Linked DNA regions of Homo sapiens: region 2 is linked to region 1. Evidence: fine-mapped expression QTL. A gene starts in region 1. The other region holds a variant in brackets. All regions are shown on one strand. Distances are from middle to middle.

Evidence for each region. PIP is the estimated chance that this variant, and not a neighbour inherited with it, causes the effect. A credible set is the group of variants that fine-mapping cannot tell apart.
Region 2: its variant is the best candidate, but not a certain one, in a credible set for the expression of ZBTB44-DT in cerebellum (GTEx, PIP 0.68).

The regions. Positions count from the first base shown.
Region 1 is chr11:130,312,883-130,317,267 of GRCh38, reverse strand. It overlaps ZBTB44-DT (ZBTB44 divergent transcript), which reads right to left and starts at 2,275. Exons shown (of 7, transcript NR_148980.1): 1 at 2,153-2,275. It overlaps ZBTB44 (zinc finger and BTB domain containing 44), which reads left to right and starts at 2,351. Exons shown (of 8, transcript NM_001301098.2): 1 at 2,351-2,893. RefSeq lists silencers at 1,258-1,317, 2,228-3,057 and enhancers at 1,618-1,717, 1,888-1,987, 3,148-3,197.
Region 2 is chr11:130,407,070-130,411,454 of GRCh38, reverse strand. ADAMTS8 (ADAM metallopeptidase with thrombospondin type 1 motif 8) reads left to right here. Exons shown (of 9, transcript NM_007037.6): 6 at 1-38; 7 at 2,515-2,687; 8 at 2,816-2,991. Among named protein-coding and RNA genes, the nearest start is that of ADAMTS8, 19 kb to the left of the region's middle. The variant A/C (reference allele first, on the strand shown) is at 2,426.

The DNA of each region.
Region 1 (4,385 bases):
TGTATTTTTAGTAGAGATGGGGTTTCACTATGTTGGCCAGGCTGGTCTTGAACTCCTGACCTCGTGATCTGCCTGCCTTGGACTCCCAAAGTGTTGGGATTACAGGCGTGAGCCACCACACCCAGCACAGTTGATTTTCTATATGCTAACAGCCATCAATCTGAAAAAGAAATCAAGAAAACAATCTCATTCACAATAGCTACAAAAAAGCAAAATAAAATACCTAGCAATAAATGTAAGCAAGGAAGTGAAAAATCTCTACCCGGAAAAGTGTACACATTGATGAAAGAAAATGAAGAGAACAAAAAAAAAAAAAAAAAAAAAAGGAAAGATATCTCACGCTCATGAATTGAAAGAATTAATATTGTTAAAATATCCACACTACCCAAAGCCACCTACAGGTACAGTACAATCCCTACCAAAATATCAATGACACTCATCACAGAACTAGAAAAAAAAATCCTAAAATTTGTATGGAACCACAAAAGACCCTGAAAAGCTAGGGCAATTCTGAGCAAAAATAACAAAGCTAGAGGCATTCCTCTACCTGACTTCAAGTTGTACTACAAAGGAAAGCAAATTTTTGTGTCAGTGTAGTAGTTGAGGAGCTGCCACCACAGCCCCTGGAGAAGCACTTAGAAAAGACTTGCCTCATGGTCTTTTATTGACTATCCTGTTAAAGGCACTAGGAGAGGTAGATAGGATTTGACTACTTCATTTCCACCCTGATTCTTGTCCAGTTGCTTACCACCTACATACATTCTCACACATTCCTCACCAGGGCCCCAGCTCATGCCCTTTCCTGAGCCCTGCTCTGTGGCCGCCAGTCCTCTCCCAGGTAAGCATTCCGCCTTCTTTCCCTTCCCCTCTTCAAAACTTAGTGCAAAAGTTTCTGGGCCTAGTTCGCATCTTTCTGATTTTTCTCATCTCTGAAATGGGAATAATAAGAATGATAGTGGGAATAATAATAGAAACCTGTGATAAAACCTGTGAATTACAGTTGCCGTAAGGATTAGATAACATTATACATGCTTGAAAACTTGTTGGAAACTGCGAAGGACTATAAAAACAGAAGTTGTTTTTATTGCCTTTATTCCTAAAGAAGATTGCAAGTGTCAGGGTGTTCAGGTGCTTGGCTGCTTGTCTCTCAGAGTGAATTAATGTGAGATGTTGCCAAGTGTTTCAAAAGGAAAATCCACTCTACTTCAGCGGGACGTCCACCCACCTTGCACAAAACCCTCTGGAAAGAAGTCTTTCGGTTTGCAAACTGGAGGCGTGGGAAAACAGAAAGCGCCCAAGGAGCACCTGCCCGCACCCCGCCCGCCCCCAGGCACCTGGGGCGCTGCCGCCTGCAGTCCCGGGAACCCCTATGACCTCCGGGGGCGGTGTGGAGAGCGCTCGCCCGCCTGGCCAGGGGAAGCCAAGACTTAGGGCCCTAGGAGTTAACTAGGTTGATTGATTTTGCAGTTGACCAAGAACTTCAAAACCCCCCGGGCGGTACCGGTTACTTCGGGGAGGCCCGCACACTTCCTCCGGGAAGGCCAGGAAGTAAGTGATGGTGCAGTAAAAATGACAGATTCACGGTTGTGGAAGAAGTAGGGTATATTTTTGGAGCAGCTCTAGCTGTCCCTGTGTTGGAAGAACGAGAGGGACCTGGGAGTCCGTTTCTCCACTCATCTCAAGAACCGCACGTCCTGCCAGGTCACCGAGGCAAGTGCTAGAACGGAAGAGAGCAAGCACTGCGAGGAGGCCCGAGGAGCCACGCAATCCAGACACCCGCCGCATGTCGCAGTCCGCCCAGGACGGGGGCGCGGGCTCACCTGTCTGCGGGGCGGCCCTTGGCAGGCCTGTTTCCATGGGTGAACAATGGGCACCTTACCAACTAACCTCCCTCGCCGAAGAGGGGCTGAAGTGTTTCTATTTCGACCTCCCTACAAAAACTACCCGAGAAAATAGGAGTTATGTTTTTAGTTCGAAGAAAAAAATAATGCTATAAATGTGACTCCTGCGGAGAAATGCTTCTCAGGTGTGAGAGGGGAACTGGGTAAGAGGACGGCTTAGAGGAAGGACAAATGGGACAGGGCTTATGGGGCATGTGAATGTAAATCGGCACATGTGCGCACATATGCAAAAATACAGTGTCAAGACTCACGGCCTTTCTGGGTCACGCAGGCTCCACCGTCTAAGGAGACGGAGTCACCAACAGTACAAGTCCCGACGGCCAAGAGGGCCCATTTTCTGCGCTTGCGCAATCATCACGTTTCCTTCCCCGCCCCGAGCCCCGCCCCCGAGCGCGCTCCGCCCCGCCCCCTTCTCCTCCCCTTCCCCAGCCAGGCCGCCGGCGCAGAGCATTGTGGGACACAAACAAAGTGCCCCCAAACAGGCTGGAGTGAGCGGAGCGGCAACGGCGGCGGCGCCGGCCGCACGCGCGCGGCGGCGGCTCCCTCCCAACCTCCCCCTCCCCTCCCCTCAGTCCCCTTCCCCTTCCCCACCCCGCCCCGCTGGGAACACGCGAGCCGTCGCCGCGCTCCCCAAACAACCGCCTGCCCTCGGCCAACCGTCCCCAACGGTCGCCAGCGCGCGGCTCCCGGGCCCCCTCGCTCCTCCCCTCTGGCCCCTCCGAGCGCTGGGGGTGCTTCCCTCCCCGCCTCCTCGCACTCCCACTCGCGGGCACGCCGGTGGCTGTGCCGCCATGCCCCACCACAGGCTGCTCACGGGCCTAGGCGCGGCGGCCCGAGATAGGGGCCCCTGAGCCTCCCGGGGGAGGAGAGAGGCAGCGAGCCGCGCTCCGCCCCCTCCCCCCGGGCCGCCGCCGCCGCCGCCTCGCCGCCCCAGCCTGGCGGGAGAAGGAGGAGGAGCAGCAGGCCTCCGGGCCCGGCGCCGCCGCCCGCAGGTAACGGGGAGGGGAGGGCGGGCTCCGGTCGCGCGGGGGACGGCCCCTGCACGCTGCCCGTGGCTGACACCGCGTGGCCCCCACCTGGCGCCGAAGGGAGCGGAGAGCCGGGTCTGTCAGCCTAGTCCGCGCCGGGAGACACCCCACGGGATCCCCTCGGTGGCATTTAATCCTTCTGGGAGGAGACCGGCCTTGGGCCCCGCGGTCCCGGAGCAGTTACCCCGACCTTCCAGGGAGCTGCCCGTCCTTTGCACGCCCATTTGCCCAACACCCTAACCCGGAGCGGCCGGAGTGTTGCCACCTCTCACCTGGTCGAACCCGGGAGGCTCAGACCTGTTTTTTTTCCTCCTTTCCCCTTCTGCTTTTTCTCTGGTACAGAAAGAAAAAGATGGCACTTCTTTAAAAAAATATATATATATATATATACACACACACAAACACACACACACATACACACACACACACACCTCTTTTCCTTTCCTTCCTGAGGATCACTCTGCATCTAGTCGTTTTATTGCTGGCCTAATCAGAAAAAGGGGTTACCTCGAGAAATGACAGGTACGTTAGAACTGATTAAAAGGAAATTGCGTCCATGTGAGTTCTATGAATCCAAGCAGAATTTACAATAAAACCCCGTAATTGTGTGCTTTTTTTTGGAACTTACAAAAATGAAGACAAAAACTTAATTTCTTTTTCAGCGTGTAAGTAGATAATCTCTTGAAGTCAGGAAGAAATTCTCCATAACTTCCACTTATTTTCTTAATGCTTTATTTGGAGATCGGCTGATACCGGAAGCAAGCTGCACGATTTTGATTTCCTTTTCTCTAGGTGTTCAGTTGGAATTCTTGGGTTTAAAAAATACTGTATAAATCTTCATTTCCCCCATTACTTCACTTGGACTGTCAGTGGATTAATAATAATTTTACCTAATGTAGTTTCCCCTTATCATAGAATGTGAATATAATGAACGTAGTCCTTTAGTTTTGTATTTTAGGATTATTAGTAATGTACTGATTAATTATGAAAACCAGATTATTCATTTTGTGCAGTACTGCTTGGCATTTTTGCATTTGTAATTATTTAATTCTCAGAACAACCTAATGATGCAGATATTATTACTTGAATTTTATAGAAGTGACAAACTTAGTGATACGAAGAATTACAACTTGCCTTAGGGCACACAACTAGTAAGATAGTTTAGATTTCAACCCAAATATAATTCCAGTATAGATGTACTTTCGTGTACTTTCTACCGTACTTCTCAATAGAAGTACAATTTTATTAACTTTGTTATGAAAAATTTTAGTCGTATAGAGGTTCGTTCTATACAATTGTGATCGGTTATTCATGCAATGAATAAAAATGCTAATCAATGCAATGAATAACCAACTCAGTGATTAGCATTTTTGCCATATTGTTTCCTGTCTTTCTCTGTATGTGTGTAATTATTTGAAAGTAAGCTGCAAACACTGTAATCCTCAAATATTTCGGC
Region 2 (4,385 bases), 94 kb before region 1:
GTACCAGTCATGCCACACGGAGGAATGCCCCCCTGACGGTAATTACCACTCAGGGCCGCCCCTGCCAGAGCAGCTACTATCATTGCTATGACGCATCCCCAGAGGATGTGTAAAGTGGGAGTGAAGTGGGTGTCCCGGGATATAGAGTTACTCCCAGAGGGGAGTAAATTGGGTCTCCTGGGATGTAGAGTTTTGCCTGTGATCTCCACCTAAATGGGCTCTGCAAGGTTCCAATCCCAGGGGCAGCTCTCAGGGACCCGGGACAGCTCTCATAGTGTTCAGAGAGCCTGGCAAAGTCAAGGAGAGAAATTACGCTCATCTTCCAAGATGTGGAGAGGAGGACATCACTCCCAACCAAACTTATTGGGGAGGAGCCTCTGCAGAGGGGCTGGTGTCTAGGAAACTAATCCTCCTGGAGGCATAGGAACCCTCATCTGTGTGCAGAATGGAAGCATTTTCCAAAGCAAGTGTCAGAGCCAAACCTCCAAGGTCTTTCTAGCCAAAATTCAGCCCAGGGCAGAGGGAGGATTTCTGAATCTGATTCCTGTTCACATTCCTTCTGAGAAGAGTTGCCCATCTTCCCTTGGGAACATGGCAACTGTTTGACAGAATCTTCCCAGGAAGGAATACTACCTCTCCCTCCCCTTGGCATATTCCTATCCCCAGTACCTGCTGGAAACCATGAACATTAACTTAGAGGCAGTAAAGGGGCAGCAGCAAACTCGTGAGAGGGAAATCATTACAAGGTTTTTCCCCACCATCCCATCCAACTGCCCAGTGTGCAGCTCCAGGAAGGATTGGCAGGCAAGAAAAATCAGGCAGAGCCTTAGGAGAGATTCAACCACGGGAAAAGACACTGGCATTGGGTTGATGTCTCAGGAGAATCTGTAGGCTTTGCGGTTTCACAAGACAAGAAGGATCCACAATGGTTTGAGGCTCTAGAAACTTTGCCCTGGAATTGTATGAGAGTTTGCCTGGCATACAGGGTGAGACGTTGCTGGGAAAGGGGGAGGATGAGAATGAATATAGGGTGCAAGGTAGGTGTGGACGAAAAGTGATGCCATGATGTCAGATGCACCAAAGTCTGCCATTACTGTCGAGTATTTTTTAGTATTTTTTGTGTGTCTAGAACTATAAAAATGTATGAAAATGTAAAAGGCATGGTCTCTGTCCCTAAGGAGCTTGTAGTCCAATTAGAGACCCAAATCCCTTTAACACAGCCATTACATTTCAATGGATGAGTCACAGACCCTAGGTTGGTGAGGCGCTCGGAGAAAGGAAAGGCTGGGTGAGCGGAAGCTTTGAAAGGAGTTAGGACTGAGCAGAGTCTGGAGGACTGAGATGGGTGAGGTGTGAGGGGACCTGCCAGGGTGGTGGAAAGGTGTGAGAAGGGCCCTCATTCACTTAGGTGGAATCAAGCAAAGCACACCACTATGTCAAGGCCAGACCACAGAGGTCCTTGAAGGCTGACACAGTATCTGGGAGTTATCTGTGCCACCTGTCCCATTAAGTCACCTGGAAGCTCCTGCAGACACAGCCCAGACCCCCTCAGCTGCACTGACTCAGAGTCTCAGGCGTGGAGTATGGCATCTGCCTTGGCAAAGTCTCCCCAGGCATTCAGATGCACAGTTTGGGCAGGGAACCTTGGCAGGAAGAACAGCTTTAATTTTAGGATTTGGGGGTGGAAAGCAACCCACATCTAACTTCAGATGGGTTGGTCTGGCAGCAGCACGTGGCAGGATGGAGAGGAGGCAGGCACAGGTCCCCATGAAGCCAGCAGGCCTGGGCTTGTGGTGGTGAGAGTGGGATGCCATCGTTTTAAATCACAGATTGTCCTGAATATAGTGTGGGTCTTTGTGACAGTTTGGAAATAGCAGATAGAGATGCTCAAATGTTCGGGAGATACCAGGATACCAGTCTCAGACTTGGGCATGGTAAGATCAGCAAATGAAAGTCAAGACAGTTCGTGGAAGGACCATCGGGAGCTTGGCCATGCTGAGTTGGAGGTAATCACAGTACATACAAACGGAGCTCCCCAGGGACACCCAGAATTACGGAATGTGGGTGTAGGGGCAAGATCAGAGCTAGACATGTAGATTTAGGAGTCTTTGGATTCATGTCCGGTGTCACTGAGGAAATCGATACTGCACAATTAGTAGTGTCCTGAGAATATAGCTCCACATGCCATTCTGTGCCTTCCAAGCTTACTGAATTGTTCCCTGTTGCTCCCTGCGTTTATTCACCTGTAGAGTACAATGAGTCTCTTTCCCTAATGGAAAGGGCATTTATCCTAGAAAGCCCAGCATGCGGCTGGAGGCTCCTTTCCTTGCCCTTTTGAGTAAGGGTCACACATGCGTCTAGGAATGTTGTGCCCAGAAGACACTGGCCCTGGGCGCCTGGGTTGAGTTCAAAACCAAAAGAAAGA[A/C]GAAAAGTGCTGTAAATTCGGGATTTCTCCACCGGATGCTCCTGCTTCCGCATGGGTGTCACCTCCATGCCGTTTCTTCCTCTTTCTAGGGAAAAGCTTCAGGGAGCAGCAGTGTGAGAAGTATAATGCCTACAATTACACTGACATGGACGGGAATCTCCTGCAGTGGGTCCCCAAGTATGCTGGGGTGTCCCCCCGGGACCGCTGCAAGTTGTTCTGCCGAGCCCGGGGGAGGAGCGAGTTCAAAGTGTTCGAGGCCAAGGTGAGAATCACCCTGGGACTCAGATCCAGAGATGGGGAGGAAGGTCGCCTGTCCCCACACCCCCGCCCCCCGGCAGGCTGCTTCTGTGCTCAACACGCCCTCCCTCACCTTCCCTTTCCCCGTTGCAGGTGATTGATGGCACCCTGTGTGGGCCAGAAACACTGGCCATCTGTGTCCGTGGCCAGTGTGTCAAGGCCGGCTGTGACCATGTGGTGGACTCGCCTCGGAAGCTGGACAAATGCGGGGTGTGTGGGGGCAAAGGCAACTCCTGCAGGAAGGTCTCCGGGTCCCTCACCCCCACCAAGTGAGTCTCCCCAGAAGTTCTGTACCTTGCTTGGTAGAAGAGCATAATGGGCTTTGCACTCTGCTAGGCCCAAATTGAACTGTGGCTGCTACTTAATAGCTGTGAGGGTTGGGCAAGTTATTTAAACTCTCCGAGCTTCAGTTTCTTTGTAAAATGTCAGCAGTATCTCTATCTCAGAGTCGTTGTAAGGATTTCCTGAGATGGGATGTGCACTTGGCAGTGTCGAGCTCATAGAAAAGATAGAACACAGGGCAGCCGTGACTTTTACGAGGGCTGGAGGCCATGTGGATAGGGAGCTGTCATCTCTGAGTCAATCGAGCCACACTGAGTAACCTGGACCTCTGCCAGAAAACAGCTCTCCCAGGCCTGTTTTGGGAAGGACGTCTCACCCTAAGCCTGGCAAGCCCCTGTCCTTTCTGCAGATGGATCTTCAGAGAAGGGGGTTACCAAAAAGGGGCCCTGGCAGCCTCAGGGCTTTCATGAATCTGAGAACTCCAGACACTTTTTTCTCATCCTAATGCCCCACATTCATAAAACTCCAAGGATTTTCCAAAGCGCTTTCATTTCCATGGTCTCATTTGATTTGTAAAATAAGTCCATGAGGTGAGCAAGGCCAATACTATTCCTCATTTTGCAGAGGAAGAAATTAAGGCACAGAAAGATTAAATGACTTTTCTAAGGTCACATTGATGGTTAATGACAGCCAGAAGAGAACCTAGTTTTCCTAAGTCCTGGATGACTTTTGTCTCCCATTCCATGTACTTCCTGCAGAGTAAGGGCAAGTTCGGGTGTTTTATATGGGCCACACTCTGCCTGTCTGCCTCCAGTACATCAATGTGTCCTAGGGCTTATGTGAGCATCCACCTGTCCAGCCACTTCCCCCACTCACGGTCTCAGAGTTTTTGAGAAGTGTTCACTGTATTGTATTCTACCTAGTGAAGCTCGCAAACCCTGCCCCATTCTGTGTGTGTGTGTGTGTCTGTCTGTCTGTCTGTCTGTCTCTACATCTCTCATCTCACCAGTCTGAGAGAACAGAATCAGCCTACAGCAGGCAACTTGGGACTGTTTTCATTTTTTTTAATTTATTTTTATTATTTTGAGACAGAGTCTCACTCTGTTGCCTAGGCTGGAGTGCGGTGGCACGATCTTGGCTCACTGCAACCTGCTTCCCAGGTTCAAGCAATTCTCCTGCCTCAGCTTCCCAGGTAGCTGGGATTACAGGCATGCACCACCACACCCAGCTAATTTTTGTATTTTTAGTAGAGACTGGGTTTCGTCATGTTGGCCAGGCTGGTCTTGAACTCCTGGCATCAAGTGATCCGCCCGCCTTGGCCTCCCAAAGTGCTGGGATTGTGGGTATGAGCCACTGCGCCCTGCCTTGGAACTCTTTTTAC